Linked DNA regions of Homo sapiens. The protein of the gene in region 4 purifies or fractionates together with the protein of the main gene of each other region. This does not show direct contact. Each region holds a gene or a part of one and is shown on either strand. Other genes may lie near its edges. The genes, in order: MRPL3, PDCD11, CEBPZ, NOC2L, NOC3L, SDAD1 and TBC1D9B.

The links.
Region 1: the proteins of NOC2L (region 4) and MRPL3 purify together in Homo sapiens (affinity purification with mass spectrometry, with the first as the bait; one large-scale study listed by BioGRID). This does not show direct contact.
Region 2: the proteins of NOC2L (region 4) and PDCD11 purify together in Homo sapiens (affinity purification with mass spectrometry; one large-scale study listed by BioGRID and IntAct). This does not show direct contact.
Region 3: the proteins of NOC2L (region 4) and CEBPZ purify together in Homo sapiens (affinity purification with mass spectrometry; 2 studies listed by BioGRID and IntAct, with this or other methods). This does not show direct contact.
Region 5: the proteins of NOC2L (region 4) and NOC3L purify together in Homo sapiens (affinity purification with mass spectrometry; one large-scale study listed by BioGRID and IntAct). This does not show direct contact.
Region 6: the proteins of NOC2L (region 4) and SDAD1 fractionate together in Homo sapiens (co-fractionation; one large-scale study listed by BioGRID). This does not show direct contact.
Region 7: the proteins of NOC2L (region 4) and TBC1D9B purify together in Homo sapiens (co-immunoprecipitation; one large-scale study listed by IntAct). This does not show direct contact.

Annotation. Positions count from the first base shown.
Region 1 is NC_000003.12:131,492,972-131,496,471, reverse strand, and holds part of MRPL3 (large ribosomal subunit protein uL3m), read left to right. Parts: intron 1-3,500.
Region 2 is NC_000010.11:103,424,126-103,427,625, reverse strand, and holds part of PDCD11 (protein RRP5 homolog), read right to left. Parts: intron 2,643-3,500; coding exon 2,101-2,642; intron 298-2,100; coding exon 235-297; intron 1-234. UniProt on the Homo sapiens protein: Essential for the generation of mature 18S rRNA, specifically necessary for cleavages at sites A0, 1 and 2 of the 47S precursor. Directly interacts with U3 snoRNA. Involved in the biogenesis of rRNA.
Region 3 is NC_000002.12:37,211,097-37,214,596, forward strand, and holds part of CEBPZ (CCAAT/enhancer-binding protein zeta), read right to left. Parts: intron 2,866-3,500; coding exon 2,768-2,865; intron 2,459-2,767; exon of another isoform or gene 2,341-2,458; intron 1,584-2,340; exon of another isoform or gene 1,297-1,583; coding exon 1,239-1,296; exon of another isoform or gene 1,160-1,238; intron 944-1,159; coding exon 747-943; intron 79-746; exon of another isoform or gene 1-78. UniProt on the Homo sapiens protein: Stimulates transcription from the HSP70 promoter.
Region 4 is NC_000001.11:946,480-949,256, forward strand, and holds part of NOC2L (nucleolar complex protein 2 homolog), read right to left. Parts: intron 2,125-2,777; coding exon 2,011-2,124; intron 1,754-2,010; coding exon 1,652-1,753; intron 67-1,651; coding exon 1-66.
Region 5 is NC_000010.11:94,352,940-94,356,439, forward strand, and holds part of NOC3L (nucleolar complex protein 3 homolog), read right to left. Parts: intron 2,155-3,500; coding exon 2,024-2,154; intron 119-2,023; coding exon 1-118. UniProt on the Homo sapiens protein: May be required for adipogenesis.
Region 6 is NC_000004.12:75,959,946-75,963,445, forward strand, and holds part of SDAD1 (protein SDA1 homolog), read right to left. Parts: intron 1,364-3,500; coding exon 1,266-1,363; intron 1,160-1,265; coding exon 1,083-1,159; intron 248-1,082; coding exon 121-247; intron 1-120.
Region 7 is NC_000005.10:179,901,398-179,904,897, forward strand, and holds part of TBC1D9B (TBC1 domain family member 9B), read right to left. Parts: intron 3,416-3,500; coding exon 3,305-3,415; intron 1-3,304. UniProt on the Homo sapiens protein: May act as a GTPase-activating protein for Rab family protein(s).

The DNA.
Region 1 (3,500 bases), on a different chromosome or scaffold from region 4:
GTGACATGGTTTATTTTGTTTCGTGTTAGAGAAGTTAGCTATTTTTGAATATTATGGTAGCATACTCCATTTATTTTTCTTTAAAGCTTTGTCATAATATCTGTCCTGCTATTCTTAACAGTTTATTGACTAACAAATTTGGGTTTCATATAACTCCATAGTAATTATAGAGTACAATGAGATATTTATGGGAACTTTTTAAAAAAATCAAGTGTTTGACTTTTTAAAAATTTATTATGTACCAGCCTTCATATGAGTAATTCTTTGGTTTGATAGATGCCACTGTTTTCTACTTGATTGTACTTCTGTGTTTTTGTAATGACTAGCATCATCATCTTCATTTTCATTACAAGTTTTGTAAATTGATGCCTTCATGGCCTGGATATTTGTAAATCAAGCATGCTAGGGTAATCCCTTCTGCCCCAGCCAGGTCTGTGAAGATTGCTTCCTCTGAAATATGAGGTAGTGAGAAAACAAGTGATGTGGGATCAGAAAAGTTGAGTTCTAATCCTGATTTCTACCTTTAGGTCCCCTATACTCACCTTTTGAACATCTATTTTCTTACCCATAAAAACAAGGAATAGTACTTGATGGTCTCTGAATTATCTTCCAGTTCTGAAAGTCTCACATTGGTTCTCTGAATATTTTAATTCTCAAGAAAAAACAAGTTTGGAGAAAAAAAGTACATGGGAGCTCAATTTATTCTATTTTACTTAGTGATAAAGATGTGTTATAATCAAAATTTTATGAAAGTAATACTAATAGTATTACTATAACAGTACTAATAATTAATATTACAGAATGATAGGTATTGCATTTCATAGTCGAGGCTGTTCACACATTTTTTTCTCTTTAGCTTATTCTGATAGCTTTATTCTCTTCAGTGGTTACATAGCACAGCAGGGTGATTTGGATGTTGTGTTCTAATGTTGTGGTGGATTTTGACCCACTTAATTTACGTAAACTTTGAAAACTTCACTTCTCTAGCATAGAAAGTACTGCGAAGGACCTTCTTTCTTCAAGATATAAAATTTCTTCAAGATATAAAATTTCTAAGTCCAGATGACATTTATTACAATAACAAGAAAAAGCTTTGTCTATAAAATGACCTTTCTTCAAAATGAAATGTGAAAATGAAGTTTTAGAATTCTTTGTAAATACATCATTTTTGTTTGAAAACAAAGATTTTTGAAACTAAAAGTATCCAGACTTCCATATTATAGCTCTCAGGAAAAAATGCAAATCGATTGATTATAGAGGATTTTTTAAAAAACGAAGACCTATGAATATAAAATTTCATATATCTAAACATTTGGAAATTAAATCACTTTATAATAGTGTTAGAACTGTTTTCTTTTAATCTGTAAAGAATTTATGCCTCCAAGAAATTAGACTACGTTGCCTTTTTGTTTTGTACCTTATTATAAATAAAAACTGAGGTAGTACATAGTGTTTTTGAATGAGGAAGTTAAGTGGCCTTAAACATTGATTAAATCAATTCATCTTAGGAGGAGAGGCATTTTCATTGTGGGAAGGATAATTGCAGAGAACTTTGAAGTGGGGGAAAAGAATGCAACCTCATAGATGGGATTATCCAACTGTGACAGTACTGTCAGTCTTTTAAATTGCCTTTTGAAATCATTTACTTATTTAGAAGTCTGAAAAAAAGAAAAAAGTCTTTTACATTGCTTCTGGTTTTAACTCTACTTGAGCATTTGGTTTTCCTCCTGACTGAGACCTAATTAGTTTTATAATATTTTGATTTTAAAAGAAAAAAGTATTTACTATTAGTGAAATTGGATGATAATCGAGAAGTATGTTTTACCTTGGTTCTATTTATGGTTTAGTCTAAAAAGTTACTTAGGATGAAATGTTTATATATATTGTCTGTTTTGTATTATTAGAATAGTAAAGGATTTTCCTCAGAAGCTTCCAGATATGCTTAAAAAGCTGGCATTAACAAAATAATATGCTTTGAAAATCACGTGGAATAGGTGAATGTCAAAAATAAACTTGAAGTCCATTCTAAAATTTAATAAATCTGAATTTTATACATCAGGAAAATAATTTAAAGGAGCCATACTGTTAAATGAAAATTTTGTGTTTGCTCTTGTTGCAGAAGTGAGTATGATTGAAGATGAAAAGCAGGGGACTTGATAATAGTGGTGTTGGGTGTTAGTGTTAATTTCAGCGTGTAGGAAATAAAATAATAGAGAATGATTGGAATGAATTTGTGTTATCACTCTTGTGGAGGAAAGGATAGCTTCTTGAGAGAACTCTTGTGAGGTATAGAACAGTCTTCAGTGGACATCAAAGTAGAGCTTCTTGGCATTTGTTGTAGGCTCCACTGGAGAGCCCCAGGGGGATTCCTGGTAAGTTGTAGACTGATCCAAAAATTAAACTGTGTGCTTACAGGCCAGTGCCACCCAATTTCATGTCAACTATAGGCAACTGAGTAAGTTATAAGTACTAATGGTTTACATTTTAAACTGAACAAGTAACTAAAGTTTGCTAAGTATTCACATATTATATTCTACAAACAAGTCTGACTCTGCAGGCACTTCATTGGAATTTGGGGGAAGGATACTTTGTTATTATCAGTGTCATCTTGAGTTGGTTAGGGTTTTTTAGTTGCTGCTATTCTTGCTTTTTGAAAATTACAATTACTATTGGTTTGGTTTTATAATAGTTTCTTGCTGATTTGTTCGTCCTCAGAGCAAGTCATGATATATCTCTTAGGCCTATACTTTTACAGTAACTAGACCTGAAGATTGAGGCCACAAACACAGTAACGTCGTGTTCCAAGAACTGATGGAGCAGAAGAGTAGAAAAGTGGGAAGAGTTAGACAAACTTTATACCCAGATGGTTGCCTGTCCTTTATCTTCTGTTTCTTTTCATCGTTGGTTTAGCCCACTTCTTTATTGTCTAACTTGCCACTGTGCTTAGCTGTAAAGTTAGAGACACAGATGAATAAAAAACAGCCTTTACCATCCAGGTGCTCACAGGTCAGCATGCTGACCAACATTTGAGTAGATAAGTGTATGGTGATATGGACAGTAATTGAGATATTCCAGTGTCTAGTGTTGGCATAGACAAAGGAGCAATGTGCTCTGGTAAGGCTGCTCAGAGAGGGATCTGGATAGGAAATATAACTGAATTTAGTACTAGAGACATGTACTTATATTTCCCAGTGTGAAGAGTGCCTCTTTCACCAGAATAAAACGAACACAGATACATCTACCTGCTGTTCCCTCTTCCTCAACTTTGAAGCTTTGGAGATGCAGGGTAGGGAGGAGATCACAGATGAAGAGAGTGGTGCAGACAGATTCAGGAAAGCATACATAGAGTAACATAGCCATTGGGGGCCTGCGGGTTCTTCATTTATGGTTAGAAAGTTGAGGGAGAGCGAACAGCAGGAAAATAGATGTACTATGTTATATTGTGATGAAAGAGGCACTCTTCACATCAGGAAATAAAAAGTGGCATAACTTTTTTGTCA
Region 2 (3,500 bases), on a different chromosome or scaffold from region 4:
AAACCAGGCTTTAAATTGATACTTAAAACCTGTACACAGCTTTTGCATTAATTTTCATATGATCCCTCCAGCCCTAGGAGAACCAAATATCCCCACTAGAGAAACAAGAAAACTTGGACAGAGAAAGGCAAAAATCAATCCTAACACTGGTAAAATCAAGATTCGAATTCGGGATTCCTAATTCCAAAGCCCAGTGCTCTTTCCGTAAGACAGTGCTGCTAATGTCCCCCTCACCTTGGCCGAACACTCAGCTCCGGGATGGTTCGAACGAATCTGGGGTGACTTATTGGGAGATACCTGGAGAAACAAATAAGCTGAATCATTTCTCTTCATCTCTGTAACACAGTAATCTGTAGGTCAGGATTTCTCCCTACTCTCCACCAAACCAAGCTCACAAAAGCACCCTGTTCCACTGTCACACCACCACTGAAGACAGATGTGTCAGGCTGAAGGTTTCCATTCCCAACCTTTGCAGTTATTAGTAAGGAGCAGGCTCATCTGAATTTTTTTTTTTTCTGGGACAAGGTCTCACTCTGTCACCCAAGCTGGAATGCAGTGGCGCAATCATGGCTCACTGTAGCCTCAATCTCCTGGGCTCAAGCAATCCTCCCAGCTCAGCCTCCCAAGTAGCTGGGACTATAGGTGTATGCCACCATGCCCAGCTAATTTTTATTTTTATTTATTTATTTTTTTTTTTGTAGAGATGGGGTCTCACCATGTTGCCCAGGCAGGTCTTGAACTCCTGGGCTCAGGTTTTCCACCTCCCTCATCGTCCCAAAGTGCTGGGATTACAGGGTTCAGCCACTACACCCAGCCTCACCTGATTTTTTTTTTTTTTTTGAAACGGAGTCTCACTCTCTTGCCCAGGCTAGAGTGCAATGGCACAATCTCAGCTCACTGCAACCTCTGCCTCCTGAGTTCAAGTGATTCTCCTGCCTCAGCTTCCCGAGTAGCTGGGACTACAGGCACTGTGCCCGGCTAATTTTTGTTTTTTCAGTAGACGGGGTTTCACCATGTTGGCCAGGCTAGTCTTGAACTCCTGATCTCAGGTGATCCACCCACCTCAGCCTCCCAAAAGTGCTGGAATTACAGGCGTGAGCCACCGTGCCTGGCCTGATCTTTTAGGATTGTCATATCAGATCCTGAAAACAATTTTCCTTACAGTCTATATACTCCAATTCTTTCATTCTAAAAATAAGGAAACTGAGGTCTTTATTTAGAGGATAATTGACTTACTGAAGACCCCACAGTTAGCTACTGAAATTAATATGCAAATTATTGGCCAGACTTTGAATTCTTTTTTTGCTGTTCTTGTTATAGCAAGAATTTCTGCTACAGTAACATGTGGCACTAGATTTAAAGTAAATGAGGATAATTAAAGTGGGAGGTGGAGAATGACAACTGCAGATGTATACAGCGCAGTAACTGAGGCCAGCAACCCACTAGGCAAAGAACAGACTACACGTTCTCTCTTTCAGTCTTCACCATGGCCCTACAAAGTAGTCGCTACCATGACTCTCACGTTACAAATTAAGAAAATAAAATTTGGACTTAAGTAGCTACTGCCACATGGTCACAGTTAATCTAGAATTCAAACCCGGGTCTGACTCCAAACCCATGTTCTTAACAACCACACCATATATTCCATATTTTTAAAAAGAATAATGCACTGTAATCCCAGCACTTTGGGAGGTGGAGGTGAGCAAATCACAAGGTCAGGAGATTGAGACCATCCTGGCTAACACAGTGAAACCCCATCTCTATTAAAAACACAAAAAGTTAGCCGGGCGTGGTGGTGGGTGCCTGTAGTCCCAGCTACTTGGGAGGCTGAGGCAGGAGAAGGGTGTGAACCCAGGAGGCAGAGCTTGCAGTGAGGCGAGATCACACCACTGCACTTCAGCCTGGGCAACAGAGTGAGACTCCGTCTCAAAAAAAAGAAAAAAAAAAGAATCTTGCAAAATAATTCTTTGGTGAATGCCTTTTGTTAACTAAAAGAGAATCTGACTTACATGCAACTTTTTGGAGCCCACCTACTTTCCCAGTCCTCCCACAACAACAACAATCTCCCTCGAAGCCAGCCCACCCCCAGAGCCTCCATACTTGAATGTCTTCATGTCTCGCCCGCCAATCACTCGGGCAGTGACCGTCTTCCCAACCTTCAGCTTGGTAGTAGGAGAGGTGCCCTCTGGAACATCATCTAGAATGTGGGAGGCATGGATACAGCCAATAATGCCATCTTCCAGAGTCACAACCACATGGGTAGGCTTAATGGACTTGACAGTCCCTGTGACCATGTCCCCGATGGAGAGGGTGTGCTTCTTTATGGTCCCTACAGTCAGAGCTGGATCCACTTCTTCATCCTCATCAACTGTCTCAGAGTCCTTCTGGGTCGGCCTCATGGTCCTCTTGGCAGCCGGCCCCTCCACAGCCAAAAGAAGGCCAGTCACTCCTGGTTCTGTGGTCTTGAGGGTTAGGGAGACACCCTGTCCCACCTGCAATTTCTCTGAGTCAAAGCGGAAGGTGTCGTTGAGGTGAGAGGTCAGGGAGAAAGCTGCCAGGTGGCCCGTCTCTACCAAGGAGGCAATGGCAAAGGACTTCTCCAAGTGCTGCACAATCGCCTGGTGTTCGCTGCCTTTCCTCAGCTAGAAGAGAGAAAAGCCACCATCCCTGCTTTCCTTACACAGCATGGTCACTCACTCATGGCCCCACTGGGCAGGGTGTGGCTGAGGAAACCCTCTGGGGTCCCAAGGCTAGGGAACTCAAGGCTGGTCTGAGCTGGAACAGACTAGCCTTCACTCCCTGGACCTAGCTTTCCTCTCCTGTACACTAAACTCATGGGGCTGCCTCTGAATTACCTTGGCTTGGTTTTTGCTTTGCTTTGAATTTAAATTGCAAGACCCTATCCTAGATCTAGTAAATCTGAATTTTACAAGTTATTGAGATAATTCTGATGCACAGCCTTGCAACCTCTAACAGCTCTCTCAGCTTAGAGACACTGTGGTTCCTGAATCTGTCCTGCAGCTCCCCCACCCCCAATTAATCACTCTTCAACCCAAGCAATGAATAGAGTCATTACTGAGAGCTTATTGTGTGCAAGGCACCTAGCCTCTCTTTCCTCAAAATCCAAATTGTGCTCATGCTCTTATATGCCCAAGCTTCCCTTAGGTGATAAAATGGTACAGGGTCCTGCTAGAAAACTGAATGAGAGGTTAGTATTGCTTTCCATTCTCTCTCTGTCCTAAACTCTTAATACTGTAAGCAACTGGAAATTAAGGATTATATCTACACTGCACCATACTCTGTGCAACTAGGTGCCTAATAAGTGCTTTAGACAATAACCAAATATATTCATCACCCAGAGAAAAATAATAATTTTTCCCTCAAACCCATTCTTATGTCACACAAAAGTGTCCAGAAGACAAGGCAGGCGAGGGTGTGGACGCACAGCTTGGAGGTCTGAACTGCCCACAGACATGCTGTTTGGCTCATGGGATGTTTTT
Region 3 (3,500 bases), on a different chromosome or scaffold from region 4:
AATTTGCTAATAAGCAATTTAAAAACAATAAGACTGGAAAATATTACTCCAAGATATGCTAAAATCTTTATTCTGATGGTAAGGCACTATACTGCTATTCCATGTGGGTTTTGTAATTCCACTAGCATAGGCTTGAGGACAGACTGAGAAAAAGACTCTAAGAATTGGCACAGTTCTAATATTTTGTGCAAGTACAAAATTTTCTAAATAGCTTCATTAATAAGACCAAATAATATAAAACCCCTTAAAACAAGAAACTTCTGCTGTGGTTCAGAATAAGTAAGAAGAATGTTGGGCAGGCATGTGCATGCTGGAGGTATGTGAAAGGACAGAAAGGTCAGACAACAGTCTAGAGACAATTCTGGGTGTTCCTTGCTAATTTACAAGATAAAATATTCACCTTCATCTATGCTGGGCTATGATGAATACTGATTAACTTTTATAAACTGCTAATTACTATCAAAAAATGGCAGCATTTCAGCTCAACATGTATTGTACAGAGAAGCTAGCTGCTGGTTAAAGTAAAAGTCCAAAGCTCAAAAAGCTGCTTAAAAGAAAACACACATAACACACAATAAAAACCCTTCAGCTCCAAACGAGAAGGGAAAAGGTCCTTTTAAGTTTCTGGCTGACATGAGTATTAATTTGAATACAGGGCTATATTAAAAACCTTTAGCAGAAAAACAAACTTAAGGCTAAGGAAGTGAGGAAGACACAGTTTATGTCTTATTTTAAAAAATGCTTACCTGGAACGCTCTCACTTTCATCATCTAACACATCCATGAATGTTCCTCCATCTTCATCAACTTCAGCAAATTCTTCATCATCCATACTTCCTAAAGAAACTTCATCGTCATCCAGGTTACCAAGTTCATCATCACTACCTTCTGAATCTTCATCTAATGTGTTATCCTTAGCTCCTTTTGTTCTCTTTTTCACGTTTCTGGAAAAAAACACAACTTGTAATACAAGAGGAGGCAGTATTTTCTAAAGTAGTGTTTTGCTGACTACTAGGGCAGTAGGCTATTAAATGACTCAGAAGGAGAAAGCTTTGCAGACTGCTCAGAGTAAATAATAACGTGCTTTATAAATGTCAAAGATGAAAGTACTGTATCCACTTCCCAAACTTACTTGACTACATTTCCCCTTTATCATATAGTTCTGTGGTCTACTGTTCTGAGGGACAACAATTTGGGAAATGCTAGAAAAATAGGAAGGAGAAGATAGAAGTATGTTACCCAGCAAAATCCATATCATCCTTTCCAGAGCTGAAACAGTTATCATCTTCAAATGTGTCTGCCAGACAATACAGAAATGTGAGATACAACAAAGAATGACAAGCTTGACATATATCTTGTATCTGAATCAATTATTCTAAGTCATGATTCTGCTGTTTATGACAAGTGAACACCAAAACAATGTAAATGTTACTGTTGCTAGTGTGCCTTAATAATGTATACAAACCTGTGAAATACTGATCTTAGTTAAATCCCAAAACTAAAGAAGGATCCAGTTAATTTCGGCTCTTTCTACAGTTCTTTTATGGAAAGAGGATAAATATCAAATAAAATGATATTTAGCAATTGTCGTCCTTTTTACTCTATTAGAACTACTTAAGTGCTCATTTTTAATAGGTGTGATACAATATGTAACATCTCATGCTTGTAATTCCAGCACTTTGGGAGGCCGAGGTGGAGTGATCATCAGCCTGGGCAACACGGCAAGACCCTATCTCTATTAAAAAAAAAAAAAAAACAAAAACAACAACAACAAAAAAAAAAACAAAAAAAAAACGAGCCGGACATCATGGCATGTACCTGTAGTCCCAGCTACCCGTGGGGCTGAGGCAGGAAAATCGCCTGAGCCCAGAAGGTCTAGGCTGCAGGGCTGCAGTGAGTTGGGATTGTGCCACTGCACTCCAGCCTGGGAGACAGAGAGAGCCTGTCTCAAAACAAACAAACAAACCCCCCAAAAAACAACAACAAAAAAATATGTAACGTGAAATCAGTGTAAGTCTTTCCAATTTACCATGTTTTTTGTTTAAGTCTATTAAGTTTCAATCAAAATTTCTGTAGCTCTGTGGATTAAAGATAAAAAAGATCAAACAGTAGACTATTGCTATCAATTAGTACTGATATACTATAATAGATTATGAATAGTAAAAAGGATTTCTTTTTCACATGAGATTTGGCTGTAACAATTGAATAGACTTAAGCAAATATAAATGTTTTCTTATATAGACTATCCAAAGCACAAATCATGTATTTTTCTGGTGCAAATGTGGGTGAATTACCATATATCATAAAAATATTTGTTTCTTTTGTTTTTTTTTTGAGACAGGATTTCACTCTGTCACCCAGGCTAGAGTGCAGTGCCGTAATCTTGGCTCACGGCAACCTCTGACTCCTGGATTCAAGCGATTCTCGTGCCTCTGCTTCTCGAGTAGCTGGGACTACAGGTGCGTGCCACCATGCCCAGCTCATTTTTTGGGGTTTTTAGTAGAGACAGGGTTTCACCATATTGGCCAGGCTGGTCTCGAACTCCTGACCTCAAACAATCTTCCTGCCTCGGCCTGCCAAAGTGCTGGGATTACAGGTGTGAGCCACAGCGCCTGGCCCCAAATATTTCTTAATCTTCCACTGTGATTTGCATGATATTCTTAGCTAAGTGATTTTTTAAAACTAAGGCCACTTCTCCCACTAATGTTCCATGGTCTATTAACACATAGTAGTAGATTATTTTACAAAGAGTCAACAAAACAAATTACCAATCAGCTCTTCAAATTCTTCATCATCCACGTCTTCTATACTTTCTTCATCTGCATCCCGTTTTTGTTTCTCTTTAACAGCAACTTTTTTATAATACCTATAATATTCATGTTATATATTTGACAATTTTATTAAAGGTCTAATCTTACTATATATCATCAAAGCACCTATGACCAGTGGCAAACCACAACTGTAAAATCTTAAGTATACTCAATTGGAAATAAATGACTGAAATTTGTATCTAATATACAAAAAATAGTTTAACTCAATAAAAAGTAGCTGGAATCTTTTAAGTGTAATACATTTCAAAGATAATATTTTATCAGCCCTATTCTTATATTAGAATACAGCAAAACTTAGCCATTTACAGATGTAATCAAACCCTCAAAATTATTCATTCTAAATGATTTTAAAAAACAAGCCAAATCAAACCTAATTAACCAGTCAACCAGATGAGATAAGAGGTACTTTACTACCCTAAGGCATTAGGTTATGATACTAGTTGGTTTAGGACTTATTTCTATAACAGTGCACTGAATCCATTCTAAGGGCCATGGTCTGGATAAATTACCCATGAGTTATCACTATATTAAACTTAAAGTATTATATTAAAATCTATATTAAAGGTAGATTTTAAGCCTATAAAGAAAATTATTATAAAAGGAAATTAAAGGCTAAATTCCAAAAAGAAGCATAAAACAAAATTTATATGCTAAATTAACAAAACTCCCA
Region 4 (2,777 bases):
CCCAAGCAGCTGCTGCACCTGCCGGCAGTAGTTGGCCACCTTGCACTCCCGGAGGAACGACTTCAGCTGCGGAAGGGAGGGGTCAGCCACTGAAGCCCAGGACCGCTCCATGTGCACAGCTGGCCCAGGTCCTGTGCAAAACCACGCGTGGTGGCCACGGGGATACCCCAGGAGGGGACATGGATCCCATCTCAGGGCTCAAGTGCATAGCTGTTGCAGCTGGGATGGCAGAGGCAGAATCAGCCCACCCTCTGGGCCAACCCTGCCCACTACTCACCTCTGGAAATAAAGTTTTATGCCAGGCGTGGTGGCTCTCGCCTGTAATCCCAGCACTTTGGGAGGCTGAGGCGGGTGGATCACCTGAGGTCAGGAGTTCAAGACCAGCCTGGCCAACGTGGCAAAACCCCGTCTCTACTAAAATACCAAAATTAGCTGGGTGTGGTGGTGGGCGCCTGTAAACCCAGCTCCTTGGGAGGCTGAGGCTGGAGAATCGCTTGAGCCCAGGAGATGGAGATTGCAGTGAGCCGAGATCGCACCATTGCACTCCAGCCTGGGCAACACAGCGAGACTCCATCTCAAACAATACTACTACTACTAATAAAATACAGTCTCGCTGACGTGCAGCCACACGTGTGCATTGCATGGTTCTGCAGTTGCCTGTGCAGCTGAACATCCGTAGGAAGCCACGTTTACCATTTGGCCCCTCACCAAAAACATTTTCTGACCCCTACCCCAGACCCCGACCCTGGGCCCTTGAGTCCAGAAGCAGAGATGCCCCAATGCCAGGTATCACCACCCAAGAGGACATGGGAGGAACAGAGGCTGTGGCCCCTGCTGTGAGTGCCCCCCAGAAAGGGGGTCCCGGCTCTGTGCATGTGACATGTGTGGCCGTGTGTGAGTACACACACATGCACACACCTCTATCTGGATAAGCCTCTGACCAATTGTGGCTCATGTGAGCAGATCCCTCCTCCCCACACTGCACAGACCTATAGTCGGCACATCTGATTCCAGCCACCAGGGCCAGACAGCAGGGCCCCCACCCCTTCCACTAGGCACAGGCCTCCCTGAGGCTGGAAACATCACGGCTGAGAGCAAACAGACCTCCCGTGGGGGCCCAGAAGGACCTTCTGAGGATAAGGAGAACCCCCTCCTCCACCCCACTCCTGCCTAAGATGAGGCTGACGTGGGGTATTTAGCGGGGCAGGCTGGGCCTTCCTATGAGGCTGATGTGGGGTATTTGGCGGGGCAGGCCAGGCCTTCCTGCCACCTGAGAAGCCACTCCACCCACTCCCCACACCCGGGATGGCCTGGGGAAGTGTGCGATCAGCGTACCAGCCTGAGCCAGGGTCGGCATGCTCAGTCCCAACCCCGAAGCAAAGATCAGCCTTGTGGTTCCCACCTGGGGAGGAGGCTGTTGTGCTCCCAGGGTCCTCAGCCCACTGCCCAGGCCTGCCCCCAAACCTCCTGAATGGCTTAGAACCCCTCATCAGCCCCTCCAAGGGGGCCTCACGGGGCGCGTTGCCAGCAGTCAGGTTCCACCCCAGTCCCAGGTACCCGGGACAAGGGCACCTCCTACCAGCCTGGGGCAGCCAAGCCCGTTATAAGACAGTCTGAGTCGGCCACGAGCCGGTGTGGGCAGGACACACACCTGCAGGACCACAGGCAGCACCAGCTCCGGGAAGCCGATGCAGTGTGCCTGGCTGTGCAGGTACTCCAGGGTGAGGTCGTACAGCTGCTCCACCAGGCCGTCCTGAAGAGCAGGAGAGAGGGCCGAGTGCATCAGGGAGAGGCTGGGGCTGGGCACTCAGGCCCCTTCCCCTCAGGCTGTCAGGGCAGCGCCATCTCCAGGGCACGGACTGCAAGGAAGGGGCTCCTGGGCCCCAGCCCTGGGAGACCATGAAGGTCCATGCTTGAACTTGGAGGATGCCAGCCCCCTCCCATCCACCTCAGCACCCCCAACCCCACCCTGGGAACTGCCCAGGCCCCTCCCCAGGAGGCCAGCCTCACCCGGTACGCCTTCTCCTGCAGGTTGACATTGGACAGCTTCAGGATCACGGAGAAGTTGATGGGCTTGGAGCTCATGCGCCCTGGCTTCCTGTTGAAGTCGACCTGCTGGAACATCTGCCCCAAGGGCCGTGTCAGGCTCTCTCGGCCCCATGCCTGGTCACCCTGGCTTCACCCTGGCTGCACCCTGGTCCCCCTGGTCCCTTTGGCCCTGCACCTGGCTGCACCCTGGTCACCCTGGTCCTCAGGCTTCAGCACGAGGAGACCCAACCCGAAACAAGAGATAAGCAGCTAGGCACGGTCCCAGCCCCATGGCCCCACACAGCCTGGCGTGTCCCCGAGTGGGGCTCTGATCAGCAGGGAAGGATCAGGAACACGGGCCCTCTCCCAAAATCCTGGGAAGCACTAAGGACCCACGTCTGGAGACCTAGAGGTCCCTGCCACACAGAGTACCAGGACAGCCCCCATTCCTGACAACATGGCACTGAGGCCCATCCTGGCCCTCAGCACAGCAATGCCACATGGGGCTCCGTCCCGAGCAACCAGAAGACGCAGCAGCAACAGCAAAGAGTGCCAGACACAGGACGGGACAGATGGAGGTCACGGGAGGCCTGGGGGGCCCCTCCCACACCCTCCACAGAAGCCACAGGCCATGCACCTCCGTAGGACATGCCAGGAGGAGCAGAGAAAGAGTCAGCCTGGCCTCTCAGTCTTGTGACCCCTCCCCAACCACTAGGAGCCCTCAGGCTGTGAACCAGAGAGATCCAGGG
Region 5 (3,500 bases), on a different chromosome or scaffold from region 4:
AAGGAGTAATATCTTTAAATAACTCCATCAGAGAAACAATTACCAGCTTTCGAACAGTAACAGCCACATCAGGATCTTGTTCCATCAACATAGAACGTAATTCTTTCAATTTTTTAATCTGTTAAAGAAATAGCTTATAAAGCTGGAGAAATCATGACGAAACAATTATGAACAAAAGACAACAGCCCCACATCCGGCAAAACAAGCGGAATTCACACAATGACTCCAAGTCTAGTCATGCCACACCAAACTCCAGACCCTGCTCACTTTACCAAGAGATAAGTCACTAAAGTCATAAAGTAATTGTATTAGTCCGTTCTTGTATTGCTAGAAAGAAATGCCTGAGGCTGGATAATTTATAAAGAAAAGAGGTTTATTTTGGCTTATAGTTCTGCAGGCTGTAGAGGAAGCTCGGTGCCTGCGTCTACTCCTGGTGAGGCCTCAGGAAACTTACGATCAAGGCAGAAGGCAAAGGGGGAGCCAGGGTGTCACAGGAAAGATAGGGGAGGTTCTAAGCTCTTTTAAACAACCAGCTCTCACATGAACTACCAGAGTGAGAAGTCACTTGTTACCACAAGGATGGCACCAAGCCATTCATGAGGGATCCACCCCTATAATCTAAACACCTCCCACCAGGCCCACTTCCAACATCAGAGGTCACATTTCAACATAAGATTTGGAGGGGACACACCTCCAAACTATATCAGTAATCATATTTTTGTCATATAGTTAGAAACATACAGACCTTAAAAAATTAGTTTACATTTATTATTTAGCTATTTTGGGAAATTCTTTTTTGCTGGATTTTCCTAAAGTACGTGTGTCCTATTCTTCTAAAAACGCTTTTCAAAATATACTAAAATGTTATATACATTAACCAAATATATCAGTCATACACATGAATTAATCAGGAATTACATGTAATATAGCCACATTAACTTGAGCTTCAAAGATAATTTCTATGATGGTTTCGACTGCTTTGATGAACTACTATTGTCTGTGAGCACAGGTTCCTGAGTAGAAGATCTGGGTTCCAATCCAGTGGCTGTTAAAATCTGGAACAAATCACTTGGGTTTTTTAAGGCTCAATTTTCCAGCTGTAAAATTAGATCAATCTCTTATGCCTATGGTTTTGTAATGATTGAGAGAATACACATAAGAAATATTCCAAATCTCTCTTCCCTAATTCTGCTCTAGATCTTCCCCTCACTTCATTAGAAAAGGACAAGTACTACTCCAAAGCATTCCCACATGAAATTTGCTTCTATAAATGTAAATAAGCTATTCTATCATTTCATAAACAAATACTTGTTATAATAGTATGCTGGGGACACCAGCATAACAATAATAATAGTATCATTTTATATGACTTCACGTATATTTCATCATATAATCCTCACCACAAAGTTTTGAAAAAGACACTGTCCTTTTTTAGAGATGAAAGAGTCTTGGATAAATAACTTACCCAAAGTCTCACAGATAGTACTTATCAGGGCCAAGATTAAACCTCAGATTTCTCTAGTTCATGTGTTATAACCATCACTAACTCAACGACTATACACATGGCACAATAACACTTTACTTTAACTTTGGCTCTAGTTCACTTAAAATATTTTCAACTTACAAATATTCCTGAACTAATTCCATACACTTCCCCTGTAGCGCGCTTTTTAAAAACTCCACGGGTATGTCAAGCAAATTTGCAAACAGGTTCCTCCTCCCTAATACAATTTTATAAATTTAAACATTTTTAGAGTTATAAGATGTCCAGTATTTTCATATATGAAGATGAGGAGAATAAGATTCAGAGAGTTTAAGTAACTTTTCTAGGATTACAAAAGAAATTAAGTTCAGACATAGCATTAAGCTAAGATTCTGTCTACTCTCTTACTCTAACCCAGCTACTATGTTTAGTTAATGCTTTTCCTTTTAGTGTATGCTTATAGGTAACAAGGGAATCTTAACAATTAGGCATTTACACCATACCTAATACAAAGAGCCTAAAGAAATTAATACTACCTACATTATTTTCTGGATCTGATAATATGGCAGATGCCAAGGCTGCAATATGCATCTTCTTCTCCTGTAATTTCTTCTTTCTCTCAATCAAATGTTCTTCTATGGTCAGCTCTTGAATAGGATCTTCAATGATCTCTAAAACAGATTAGATGTTCCCTTACATATTCCTCTGCTTACAAGTATCCAAGAATCTTAATAAAATATTTTTACAGTAATAATAATAATGACAACAGCTAAGAATTTTGTATTTACTACTACACATCATCTCCTCAACAATACAGGTACTATCATTGGACCCATTTTATAGATAAGAAAACTGAAGCAAAGGAAGAGAAAATAACTTGGCTAAGCTCATAAACCAAAGGAAAATAGGATTCAAGCTCATAAACCAAAGGAAAATAGGATTCAAACTCAGGCAGTCTGATTCTAGAACTTTTTTTTTTTTTTTTTGAGACAGGGTCTCACTTGGTCACCTAGGCTGGAGTACAGTGGCACTATCACAGCTTACTACAGCCTCCACCTCCCAGGTTCAATTGATCCTCCCACCTCAGCCTCCCCAGTAGCTGAGACCATAGGTGAGCCACAATACCCAGCTAATTTTTGTGTTTTTTGTAGAGACGGGGTTTCACCATGTGGCCCAGACTGGTCTCAAACTCCTGGGCTCAAGTGATCCTCCCACCTCAGCATCCCAAAGTGCTGGGATTACAGGCATGAGCCAGTGCAACCAGCCTAGAGCTCATATTCTTAGCTTCTATGATAATAAGCCCAAAATAATTCATATTAATTAACAAATAGGATAATCCTATTTAGTTTTTTTTTAAGTACAGAATATTCTCCTTTGTTTTTAACACTATATATTACTTTATACAAACTAATACTTCATAGTTTTGGGCTACAGAAAAACATGTCCACCTTAGGAAATTCATAGGGAACTAGATTTAATCAACACTAGCATAATCTGTAATGGTTTTATGATGGGTGACTGAAAACAGTTAAACAGTTGACCTGTAATTCATTTTTGCTATTAATGAGGTCTGCTAAGCGAAAGTAAAATTTAACTAGATTGTTCTGTCACAAATTCCAAACTAATATAATTTCAAACAATAAAATGCATTATTTCAGTTCAACTTTGATTAAATGGTCCTAGGTAATAGAAACTGACATTCAATTATATGAAACATATGCAAGTATAATTGTGCTAGAAACAAACCAAAATGACTTCATACTACAGAATCGCTTTTGTAATTTAAAGCTAAAAAGTTAACAGTTATTTGTAAGTAGTCTTTCTCTTACAATTAAAAGGAATTCAGAACAGTAATAATTAACAAGACACACTTCTTGTATGCCTAGATATTACAAATATGATTGTGTAAATTTTTCCATAATCAAAAAAATAAAGAATCTATTAATAATTCCACAAGATGAAGCTTTCAAATGTGGAAAAATGTTCAAAGTGACCTTGAAATGAGCAGTACTCCAAA
Region 6 (3,500 bases), on a different chromosome or scaffold from region 4:
CACATAGTCATTGCTCAATAAATATCTGCTGAATGAATGTTCAAATAGTATACAATTTAAAGGTCTGCACAGATACTGCAGGAGTGTTTTGCCCAAAATAAGGGTGAAATAAAAATCAACCTTCATCATTTTCAGCATTCTCTTCTTTCTCAACTTCCAGAACTTCTGCTCCTGGAATGTAATCTTTAGCATCTAATTCTCCATATTCTTGTACTCTTGCTTCTATGGAGGCCTCTGTAGGCTTACCCTAAAGGAAAAGAAATTGTTTGTAATAAGTTGCTTAGATCATAAAACCTTAATCATGAAAGGTAGTCTCTGAAATTATGAATTTATTTTATTTATTTATTTGAAGACAGGGTCTTGCTCTGTTGCCCAGACTGGAGTGCAGTGGTACAATCTCAGCTCACTACAACCTCCGCCTCCTGGGCTCAAGGGATCCACCCACCTCAGCCTCCCTAGTAGTTGGGACTACAGGCACGCACCACCACACCCAGCTAACAAAATTATGAATTTAAAAGGGAGCACTATAAAAAATGCTGGTAACCAAATGACAGCAACAGTTTGCTTATGTCTCAGGTCAAAATAAATCCCCAGCCAGCAATCTGTCCACTATTTTCTTGTTGTGTTTTGATCTAGATCAAGACACTGGTAGTTATTAGAGAGTAACTGCTCTAATTTTTTAAGTCTTGAAAAACGTCATCTCTCTTTCTGTTACATACATGCATCCCTCCTCCCTTCCAACTTGAAAGAGGTAGTATCTGGCTGTGCAATAGCCTGTTCACAAAACTGGCATCAGCTACTGACTGATCTTTGAGATTCCGATCTGTTAATAACATTAAAAGCTTTCAAGCTGAAACAGCCTGATAGGTCTTCAAGACACAGTCATCATCAATGAATATGTGCCAACTATAAAATATTCAGGGCCATGGTATTTGATTCCAAGCTTAAAGAATACAACCGTGTGCATCATAACCATGTAATCATAACAGAAGCATCATAAGTACTAAAATCCTAATTGTAGGAAATTTCTCTCAGTTTGTGAGACCATAACCTTTAGACCAACATAAGTGTGCTTTACCTACCCGGAATTTCTTCTGCAGCATCTGAGGATTCAGTGTTCGGAAGAGGTGAATCAAAGTTCTAGCAGACATCATTACATCTGTAAAATAATACTTTTAATTAGAAATTCTGGCCCATAGAGTACAATGAGGTAAAAAGGAGTCACACTGTACTCTTTGGTGTGTAGAGAGTAACATGCAGCTTACTCTTATCCTTGTGTGTTTTATACTGAGCCAGGTCTTGGAGAAGTTCTTCAGTCATGGCCAGAGGACATCGAGCTGTTATCTCCTTTATAGCATTGATTCTAGAAAAAGAAAAACAAAGTTTAAAAGAGCCCGAATAGCAATTTTTTCATGATTCAACACAGGAAGACTTCCTAAAAAGATTAACTCAAAAGGAAAACACGTTGAGTTTTATATAGCTTAGGTCTCCAAAACTGCAGCATGTTAGAGAATGTCAGGTAGGCAGCCTTAGAGGGCTTTTATTCCAGTTACTGCCATTTCCTCTACTGGTGGAATAAGGAACAGTGTCCGGCACACTAAATCAGAGAAGCATTTACTTGCCAACTCTAAGAAGAGATGGGACTAGCTCAAATAAGAAAGGTTAAAGTCTTTAGGGCTATTATCCTGCAATATTTTCCAAGGAAAATAAAAAGCTGCTGTTCAGCATATCACTTACTTATCAGGACAGATTAGACAATCCTTAAACCAGTGATTATACTCATTAAGTGTTTTTTAATCAACCAAAAGGGCTACTAAATTGCCCTAGGAAAAAAGAGTGCTTCAATAATAAATCACTCGTTCCAGGGTTCTATGGTTTGAATGTTCCCTCTAAAACTCATGTCGAAACTTAATTGCCACTGTAATGGTTTAAAGAGGAGAGACTTTTTTTTCACTGTTTTATTATTATTATGCTTTAAGTTATAGGGTACATGTGCACAACGTGCAGGTTTGTTACATATGTATACATGTGTCATGTTGGTGTGCTGCACCCATTAACTCGTCATTAACATTGGGTATATCTCCTAATGCTATCCCTCCCCACTACCGCCACCCCACGACAGGCCCCGGTGTGTGATGTTCCCCATCCTGTGTCCAAGTGTTCTCATTGTTCAATTCCCACCTGTGAGTGAGAACATGTGGTGTTTGGTTTTCTGTCCTTGCGATAGTTTGCTAAGAATGATGGTTTCCAGCTTCATCCATGTCCCTGCAAAGGACATGAACTCATCCTTTTTTATGGCTGCATAGTATTCCATAGCGTATATGTGCCACATTTTCTTAATCCAGTCTATCATTGTTGGACATTTGGGTTGGTTCCAAGTCTTTGCTATTGTGAATAGTGCTGCAATAAACATATGTGTGCATGTGTCTTTACATCAGCATGATTTATAATCCTTCGGGTATATACCCAGTTATGGGATGGCTGGGTCAAATGGTATTTCTAGTTCTAGATCCTTGAGGAATAGCCACACTGTCTTCCACAATGGTTGAACTAGTTTACAGTCCCATCAACAGTGTAAAAGTGTTCCTATTTCTCCACATCCTCTCCAGCACCTATCGTTTCCTGACTTTTTAATGATCGCCATTCTAACTGGTATGAGATGGTATCTCATTGTGGTTTTGATTTGCATTTCTCTGATGGCCAGTGATGATAAGCATTTTTTAATGTGCCTTTAGGCTACATAAATGTCTTCTTTTGAGAAGCATCTGTTCATATCCTTTGCCCACTTGTTGATGGGGTTTTTTTCTTGTAAATTTGTTTAAGGTCTTTGTAGATTCTGGATATTAGCCCTTTGTCAGATGGGTAGATTGCAAAAATTTTCTCCCATTCTGTAGGTTGCCTGTTCACTCTGATGGTAGTTTCTTTTGCTGTGCAGAAGCTCTTTAGTTTAACTAGATCCCACCTGTCAATTTTGGCTTTTGTTGCCATTGCTTTTGGTGTTTTAGATATGAAGTCCTTGTCCATGCCTATGTCCTGAATGGTATTGCCTAGGTTTTCTTCTAGGGTTTTTATGGTTTTAGGCCTAACATTTAAGTCTTTAATCCATCTTGAATTAATTTTTGTATAAGGTGTCAGGAAGGGATCCAGTTTCAGCTTTCTGCATATGCTAGCCAGTTTTCCCAGCACCATTTATTAAATAGGGAATCCTTTCCCTATTTCTTGTTTTTGTCAGGTTTGTCAAAGAACAGATGGTTATAGATGTGTGGTATTATATCTGAGGGCTCTGTTCTGTTCCATTGGTCTCTATCTCTGTTTTGGTACCAGTACCATGCTGTTTTGGTTACTGTAGCCTTGTAGTATAGTTTGAAGTCAGGTAGCGTGACTCCAGCTTTGTTCTTTTGGCTTAGGATTGTCTTGGCAATGTGGGCTCTTTTTTGGTTCCATATGAACTTTAAAGTAGTTTTTTCCAATTCTGTGAAGAAAGCCACTGGTAGCTTGAT
Region 7 (3,500 bases), on a different chromosome or scaffold from region 4:
TATTATTTTCTGTTACACATAACATTCCTAGAAAACTAAAACAGAAGAAATCTCCTCCTCGCTGCCTGTGTGGATGTGTCAGCACTTTAATTAAAAATATTTATAGGCCGGGCACAGTGGCTCAGTCCTATAATCCCAGCACTCTGGGAGGCTGAGGCAGGGGAATCGCTTGAGCCCAGGAGTTTGAGATCAGTCTGGGCAACATGGCTGTCTCTACAAAAAATAGAAAAAATGAGGCATGGTTGCGTGGGCCTGCAGTCCCAGCTAGTCAGGAGGCTGAGGTGGGAGGATCGCTTTAGCCAGAGAGCTGCAGTGAGCTGTGATTGCACCACGGCACTCCAGCCTGGGCAACAGAAAGAGAACGCCTCAAAAAAACATTTCTTTTTTTACATATGTGCATTAAAAATATTAGTTAAAAGTAACTCAATCTTCATTTCATACTAAGAAACTATTCCATCTCTATGCTAGGTGCTGGGAATAAAAATAATATAATAGCTAATTAGAGTATTAAATGCTGTTTCTGTTTTCAGAGTTTTCCATGGATTATCTTATTTCATTCTCAGAACACAGTGGAGACAGGTACCATTATTTTCATTTTACCAGATGAAGCTGAGGCACAGAGAGGTGAAATAAGTTACCCAAGGTCACACAGCTGGGAAGTGATCAAATCAGAATCCTAACCCTGGGTGCCTGGCTGCAGAGCCTGCCCTCACCCTCGGAAGCTCCCGGCCTCATGGGCTTCCACGTAAAAGCGTGTGCAGACACGTCATGTCCAGAGGAGTAAGGAGGAAGGATGGGTCTGTGGAGTCTGGGCAGTTCTCAGAGGAGCGGGAGGGAAGGTTAGCTGGCATGGCGGACACTAGGCACAGCAGCCAGGAGGGGTGTGGCTCCTCCAGGCCCTGCAGCTGTGTGGTCCGGCTGAAGGCCAGGCTGTGAGCTGGGGAGACAAGGCCAGAAATGGAGGCAGGCAGACCCCCAGGTGTCCTCGAACACCAGGCTCAAGGGTCAGGACTCACTAAGCAGGTGCTGGCAGGGCCATGTCTGGTCTTGGTGAGTTGCTTCTGGGGCCTAGCCTGGCTGGCAGGAAAGGGAGGCACAGCCAGGGCCAGTGCAGGGCTTTGGGCCTGGCAGGAGGGGAGAGGTCAAGTGTGTGGCACGGGGCTACGTACATGGGCTCCGCTGCGTGGCTGTGGCTGGGCCCCTCCCCAGCACCAGGCCTGCTGTGACTAAAGGGATTCCCACTCTGCCCCTCGTACTTTTCTCTCCCCAGGGACGGGCAGCTCTTGCTGCCAGAGATGGAAATCTCAAGGGCCCATGTTAAAGCAGCTCCTCTCCTCATTAGCACACACCAACCTCCTGGCCCACTCAGAAATGGTCCCCTCCCCACAGGAAGCCCCTCCTCTGGCAAACTCTTGCTGCCCCCAGGGTCCACTCAGGCTCTGAAGCCAGAGATCGGGGGTCTAACTGGGCTTCCCTGCTTGGCCTTGGACAAACTCCCCTTCCTAACTCTTACTGAGTTATTCAGTCCTGCAAAGGAGAAGGGCACTGCTGGTCAGGATGCCCGTGCAGAGCGCCCACCTGGGAGTGGGGCTATTCCCGGGGTGCCGCCCGCCCTGTGCTTTTACTTCCTTGACCCTTCCCCTCCTGAAGCTGGGTTCCAGCCGTGAGGTTGACAAACTTTTGAGTCTCATCATCTTCTCCCAGGCCTTCAAGGGAAACCACTACCCTGGAGAACAAGGGCACTGTGGCTTCTGCTTCAGAGAGGTACTGAGAGGGTCCAAACTGCAGCTGTGTGACTCTGAGCAGGTTACTCAACCCCTCTGGGCCAGAGTTTCTTCACCTTCAACATAGAGAAGACCAAAGTACTTATGCCTTCTGGAGGTACCGGGTGGTTCAGGCAAGTGCCTGGCACACAGGAAGCACTGTCTGAGCGTCAGCTAGGACTGTCATTTTCTCAGAGCAAACTCAACCCAGCAGGTACCCGCTGAAAGGGGACTTCCCTCCGCACTCTTGGACGGGTGAGTGCGCTTCCACCTAGGAGGACAACTACAGCGGATTCTCGTTATTCAGGTGGTCAGATTCTGTAAGGTGGCCGCGAACACTGAGTTAGCGAATCCTGAACCAGTACCCCGGGGGAACACAGGGTTAGGTTCCTGGAGCCTCTAATCACACTTCTGTCGACTGACCGATACATAACTGTTTTACATGTGTTTCTGTTTAAAGATGCCTTATTTAATACGTATTCCTGATCGATTGGCATTGAGCTCACGGCCAGCAGCACTATCACTCACGCCTGAATGAAGCTGCTCTCATGCACAGATCTCCTTCACAAGGCACAACTCAGCCTTCTTGCTCTTAGGAACAAGAGCGCTATGCTTGGGAGCCATTTTAAACAGCCAAGTCATCAGCAACGAGCACAAACATGGGAAAAACATGGCACTGCAGAGACTGTGAACAGGACACGTGAGTGCAGTATGAGAGCTGAATCAAGAAGGCAGAGCGTCGTCCTGTTCTGCCTCAGCTGGGGACATGGGCATCAGGCGAGTCAAATTTTTCACTGCTTTGAACGTGCATGTGTCCATGAGTGTCTCCAAATGACCACAAAATCGCTGGAAGTATTGATTTGGGGATTGCAAATACATTTTATTGAGTAGGCCAATTTGCAAATATGGAATCTTTGAATGAGGCCGACTACGTCTACCTTGAGAAAAGGTGGCATGAGAATGTGGACATTGGCTAGCCCCACACCTGCGTCCCTAGAGGTACATGGGGATCCATGGGGCTGTCCTCTCCTGCCCTGTCCCCATGACCAGTGGAGCTGCCTTTTTTTTTTTTTTTTTTTTTTGAGACGGAATCTCGCTGTGTCGCCCAGGCTGGAGTGCAGTGGCGCGATCTCGGCTCACTGCAAGCTCCGCCTCCCGGGTTCACGCCATTCTCCTGCCTCAGCCTCCCGAGTAGCTGGGACTACAGGCCTCCGCCACCACCCCCAGCTAATTTTTTGTGTTTTTTAGTAGAGACGTGGTTTCACCGTGTTAGCCAGGATGGTCTCGATCTCCTGACCTCGTGATCAGCCCGCCTCGGCCTCCCAAAGTGCTGGGATTACAGACGTGAGCCACCGCACCGGGCCACGGAGCTGCCTTTCTAAGATGGAAGCGAAGGCTCCTCCACTTCCCTCTTGCAGCCTTGGGCTATGCTGTCAGCAGGGAATACCACCCAGACACGTGGGCTACACACCCCTTCCTCTCGGCAACGGCCCTTCCAGGGCAGGCCCTGCCCAGCACCCCTCACCACTCAGGGCACCTACCACACGCCACTGTCCAGTAGACCTGGGAGTCCTGGGTCTGGTGCAGGATGCGGTAAGGGGCCACGCGGGCACTGGAGTCCAGCACCACGTCCAGGGTGCCCACGAGAAGACCTGGGAACAGGGCAGAGAGACATAGAGGGTGAGGGGAGGGCCGGACTGAGGCCCCTGAAGGCTGAGTCTGGCCGGAGGCAGACAG